2 separate regions of the Homo sapiens genome follow, and region 2 is linked to region 1. Evidence: fine-mapped expression QTL. Tissue or cell type: testis. Region 1 holds a variant in brackets; the other region holds the start of a gene. All regions are shown on one strand. Distances are from middle to middle. Region 1 overlaps SCN9A (sodium voltage-gated channel alpha subunit 9). Region 2 holds the start of SCN9A (sodium voltage-gated channel alpha subunit 9).

The links. PIP is the estimated chance that this variant, and not a neighbour inherited with it, causes the effect.
Region 2: SCN9A starts here. The variant in region 1 is fine-mapped to the expression of SCN9A in testis (GTEx, PIP 0.91).

Annotation. Positions count from the first base shown.
Region 1 is chr2:166,340,390-166,343,308 of GRCh38, forward strand. The region is part of intron 1 of SCN9A (sodium voltage-gated channel alpha subunit 9); the gene reads right to left. Among named protein-coding and RNA genes, the nearest start is that of SCN9A, 34 kb to the right of the region's middle. The variant G/A (reference allele first, on the strand shown) is at 1,645.
Region 2 is chr2:166,374,454-166,377,372 of GRCh38, forward strand. SCN9A (sodium voltage-gated channel alpha subunit 9) reads right to left here and starts at 1,491. Exons shown (of 27, transcript NM_001365536.1): 1 at 1,244-1,491.

The DNA.
Region 1 (2,919 bases):
CTGATTCTTGGTTTTTGAATTTTTTAAAAATCAGGCTTCTAATCGTTAAGACTTAGTCCTCTAATCATATCACAACGTTTTCTTTCTTTCTCTTTCTTTTTTTCTTTCTTTCTTTCTTTTCCTTCCTTCCCTCTCTCCTTTCTTTTCTTTCCCTTTCTTTCTTTCTTTCTTTCTTTCTTTCTTTCTTTCTTTCTTTCTTTCTTTCTTTCTTTCTTTTTCTTTCTTTCTTTCCTTTCTCTTCTTTCTTTTTTGATAGTGTATTTCTGTGTCACCCAGGCTGTAGTGCAGTAGTGCATTGACAGCTCACTGCAGCCTCCACCTCTGGGATTCAAGTGACCCTCCCACCTCAGCCTCTCAAGTAGCTAGGACTGCAGGCAGGCGCCACAACACCCGGCTAAGTTTTGTCTATTTTTTATAGAAATGGGGTCTTACTATGTTGCCCCGGCTGGTCTTGAACTCCTGGGCTCAAGTGATCCACCCACCTCAGCCTCCCAAAGTGCTGGGATTGCAGGCATGAGCCGTCCTGCCTGGCTTTGAAGTTTATTTCTTCATGTACAAATATATGCCAAGAATATGGTAGCTGTGTATTTATTCTATATTTTATTTTTATAACTGCATTTCTTTGTATTATTATGTGCATTGATATACTAAAGTATTTTCTAAAGAACTATTTCCTTTGGAAATATCTCTTAATTGACCTTACCTTTTTAGAAGAAAAGTTGAAAACTGGGCTGGGGAACAAATGGAAAATAAGATGCTTTTAACTATCATGTATGTAATAGAGTGACATTTGTCAAGCAAATGGAAATTTCACATTCAAGAATAACTTAGACATATCTATATAATGACATGGTGAGTTACACTGGTTTATAATTTTCACAGCTCTTTCACATATAGCAATGCTCTAAAATATAAACTGCAAAGATTCCTTTCATTTTTCTTACCAAAGGTGACATTGAGATTTACAAAGTTTGGTGCTTGTTACCAAGTCATGTTTAAGGAAACATTGAAGCTATGACCAGAAGTCAGGCTTTGAGCTTTGAGTTCAGTGGCTTCTCCCACTTTATACCGTCTAAGAAAAGTTAATTTGATAGAAGACAATGAAAGAATTGGCAACAATAGACCTGCAGATGTTTTAAAAGGCACTAGTTTAGCCAATATGCCTAAATATGTACATGGGTCTCTTTAAGACTCCACAAAGAGACACTGCTAAGAGTTACTGGAAACAAACTACAGCTGCTCTGTGAATAAATTCTTAGTTCACAGTTGCTGTGGGAAAAAATGAAAGATCCAATTACAAAGTCTGGGAGATTTCCTATAATTAGTTGCTATTATATTACTTTTGCTATGACACAGTACAGAAGAAAGGAAAAAGGAAGAGGAATTGCTGTTTCATTTCTTTATTATTTTCTTAATTGCTTTTTTACTAACAGCCTGTGTCTCAAGGAAGCCAAGCCATATTCATTTCATCAATAACATTAATCTGTCATTTCATTCAGGAAATACAAGAAAGGTTTCGGTTTTAACCTTAAGAATACTAGGATATTCTGATCTCTCTTATATTGTTTTGTAAGCATACTTGCAGAATAATGTCAATACATAGGGAGGGTTGCAGACTTGTGTTTCTGCATGTGTGGCATAAAT[G/A]TTTGTCAAAATAATAACTATGTGATTATTATGTATACTATGTTGTTCCCAAGTCTTGTCCTGATTATATTATACCTTATATTTGAGAAATTATGATGCCCTATAAATAGAGAAAAGCGCACAAACACATCAGCACGTATGTATAGACTATATAATACTAATAATATATTGCATTTACTTTAAAATCGTTTAGAATCTTTGGGCTATTTAAAGTTTGTACAAAAAACACAAATGACTTCAATCAGTAATAGAACCAATCTAGTCAATGAATGCCATATGGAGATGTCCCTGTTTGGTCACTTTTTGACACTGCAGGCCAGTCATGACCCCTTCAATGTGCCAATGGTCAACTACTGCAGTTAGCTTTCCTGCCTTTCCTTAAGGTGATAATATCTATAGGACCAAGTTTTCCATCCTTATAATTAAGTGTTACAAACATTATGGCTTTAATTATAGTGTGGCTTAAACTGTTTTTTAAAGATTAAACCATTAGAGTCAGAGAAAATTTTCTACCTCACGTTTAGAATAGAGTCTCCAATTATTTTTGATCATCACCCTTACCAGCTCAATAATAGCAATACCAATAATAATAAAAGATCTCCCAATAAATGAATTTATATGCTTGCTAAATTATAAACAATCTACACATGCAGTGTAAAACATATGCATTTAAAAATATACACAAAATTGAAACTATTTTTTATTTTATCATTATTTTTTAAATCTATCATTACCTTGATCTTGAATAAAATTGAAACTTTTAAAGATAAGAATGAAGACAAAGCTCTTCCAGCATTGTTCTTAGGTGTGCATATTCAACTTTGGAAACCACAGATTATGCCCTTTGCATACATCCACCACCAAAGCTTCCCTGGAGAACTCAGGCAAACATGTCCCTGTCCATCCCTACCTTCATGCTGCAAAAACGTTTTTAGCACATAGAGTGCATTGAGTTTTAAAACTAGCATTCTTTCAACATCAGATTAATTGAAATGTCTTCTCTTGCATAACATCTTTCTAGAGCCTGTAAAATTAACTAAATAATGTAGTGCAGGTAAAAAGTCTTATTCATATGAAATAATTACACTAATTTTCTTGGTGAGGTGAAAAAAGAGCACCGATTTTTTTGTCATATACTTTGCTTGTTTTATAGGAAAAAAATTATAGATTTGTGATAACCTATTTAGAATTCTAATCAATGTTTTATTTCAAAAAGAAAACAGAAGTAAAGGCTTCACATATAAAAACCCAAAGCTTTTAGGAGACTTTACATAT
Region 2 (2,919 bases), 34 kb after region 1:
AGACTAGCTTTCAAACTAATCAATAATTTTTAAAAAATCTCACCATAATTATAAGAAAAAATTATAAACTTTTTTAAATAGTGGAAAAAATCTGAAGAATTTGCAATAAAATGAACAGTTTAATAATTGGATTTGGTTTGCAGTTTATATAAAATAGGTTTATATTGATGTTAAAGCAAAAATTATAAAATATATTTAAATAACAAGGAAAGAAAGAGAAAGAAAATCTTTATCTTGTCTACAGGGAAGAAGAAATAGAAAAGAATAATAAATATGTTTCTGAAAAGAACTGAACTTCCCAACACTGACTTCCTATTCAGTAACTGACAAGCTATCACTTCCTTGAAAGCTTACTTTGATTTGGCTTTTATCTTACTGACACTAGCTTCTTAAAAACCCCCCTAAGTTTCTCATGTAAATTGCTCTTAACATCAGAGTAGATATAATCTATGAACGCTCCAACTTAAAAAAAAAAAACTAAAATAATGAGTGAAATGTTTACTATAATCACAAAAACTGGCATTAATGTTTCTAGTTTCTTGTTCTGATTTTTGTCTTGAATATAAGGCACGAAAATATCCATTTTTTCCTAAAAGTAAATGAGTTTCCCAAGTTGAATTCGATAAAAAGTTAAAAGGATTCTGCATCTTTTCTGAATTTCACTATAAAGTGCTTATTCGAAAAAATAAATAAATAATCTGCGCTGAGAAATAGGGGCAGAGCTGTCCTGTCAATTATTTGTGTTTGTGTGCTCTTAAGGGGTGCGGGGTTCTTTTCTGTCCCCACAGGTTGTATCTGCTAAGCTGGTTCTGCACGCTCAGCTTTGCAGATGGGAAATACAGCACATGCTTTTTGCTCGTAAAAAATGTGAGCTGCCCCTTGAATTGAAGTCCATCTAACAACTCTGCTAGCGTAAACAGAAATAAAAGACAGTAAACCACCAGGCATTGCTACCCTTCCTTTCCACAGTTTCAGAACCTGGCAGCAAACCCACAGAGTCAAAACCGCACAGGAGCTGCCCAGCTATCGAAATAACTACGCTTCCAGCCCTTCTTCCTCCCATTGCTGGAACCACCCGGTCAAGCTTCTCCCCTCTCTTCTTTCCAGGTGGCGTAATACAGGGTTCCAGAACCGAGATGTGAAAATAGACACAGGTGGGTGTGGCGGTTGAGGCGAGCACGGGCGAAAGACCGAGGGCTTCTCCTCCCCTCCCCACAGAAGCAGCAAAAGAAAAGGCACTTACTTGCAACCTAGCCCGCCGATCATCCCCACCCAGTGCACCTGCAGAATCTGGCTCCAGGAGAGGGCGCGGGCCTCTCCTTCCCCGGCGCTCTCTCAGGGCTGCTTCTTTTTCTCTGGGCTCCTGTTGCTCAGGGGACGCCTGCCGCTAGCAGCCACTGGCACCCAGGCTAGCCCAGCCTCAGCCGAGCTGGCGGAATTGGAAAGCCGACAGCCGCCGCTGGAGCGCTGGCGACCGCCTGCAAGCAGACTGCGCCCCTCCTGCCAGGGCGCGCCCGTGGAGGTAGCAGCCCCGCCTCCCCGAGGGCAGCTGCGCCGCTTTGCCTCCTCCACTCCTCCCAGCGCGCCCGGGTCCCCACCCCTTGCTCCCTCCCTCCCTCCCTCTCTCCACTCCTGCGGGCGGCGCAGGGCGGGGACCCAGCTAGGGGCGCGGTGGTGGCGACGCTGTAGCCTCTGCACCATGCGCTAATAGAAGGCGGAGGAGGGGGTTGCACGACCTGCCATCCACGGCCACCCATTGGGTGGGGCGTGTGTGTGTTTGAGTGTGTGTGTGTGTGTGTCCAGCAGCCAGAAGAGCCCTTCCCTTATCTCACCCCCGCCCCCATCATCCCTTTCCTCCCTTCCTGCTCAGCAGAATCGGCTAATGTTTCCGAGAAGTCACTTTGTGTGGCTTGGTGGGGAGCTGGAGAAAAACTCCGGAGCAGAGGAGGTGGGGACCAATGGCAAAGCCCTGAGTCTGGGGCAGTGGCTGGGGAGCCAGACAACACCGCCAGGCCAGCGCCTCCCCGACCTTGGGCTCTGAAGAGTCTAGGCTGGGAATTGGTTTCTTCCGTAGGGCTTTGCTCACAACCGCGAGTGGGGCGGTGACGCTCAAGACCGGTATCTAGGCTATGTTTTCTGTTTTCTTTATATATATGTATATATAAAATCAATTGAATTGCAGCGTCTTCCAGGCAAGCAAATAATACATTTTCTTTCGAAGATGCAGTGAAGAATCAGAGGAGGTCCTAGGTGGGGAAAGAAACGTGGGGAAAAGGCTGCTTTTCCAGACCTGGGACCCGATTATCTGAATATGCCATCAGTCATATGGGTTCTGAATTTCAGAGCTGGTAGGAGCGACTGTGAAAATAAATTTTTTAAAAATTCATTTTGTGTGGAGTGTGTGCGTGCGCTTTCCTACAGCAGCCTGGGAGGAAGAACAATGGAAACAGGGTTGAATTATCTTTCTCAAAGAGAAACAGGAAATTTCCACCAAGGGAAGAAATCAAAGGATGGCCATAGGGCAGGGTGCCTCTCAAAAGGGCAGACCACTTTGCAGGATAAACACTAGTGACGGGCACTTTTATTATTTGCTTCCACACCTTCTATCATGGAAATGATGCTTAGAGATAACCGGAAGGAAATCAAATCCCAGGGTCTACTTTTCCCTGCTGCTTTCTTTGCTTCTGAGATTTGTCCTGGGGCTTTGGACCTTACATTCTTGACTTGTAAGATGTGCTATTGAAGGAAGGAAACTTCAGTGACTGAGACTGTGCAATGAAGGTGAACTAGCTCACTTGTGATAATTCTCAGTGCCATATCCTGGACAAATCGCCTTCTCTTCCCTGATTGGTGGTAGATATAGGAAGAAGAGTTCAACTGCAATAGGAATAATGGTCTTTTTTATTAGATGCAAGCAAT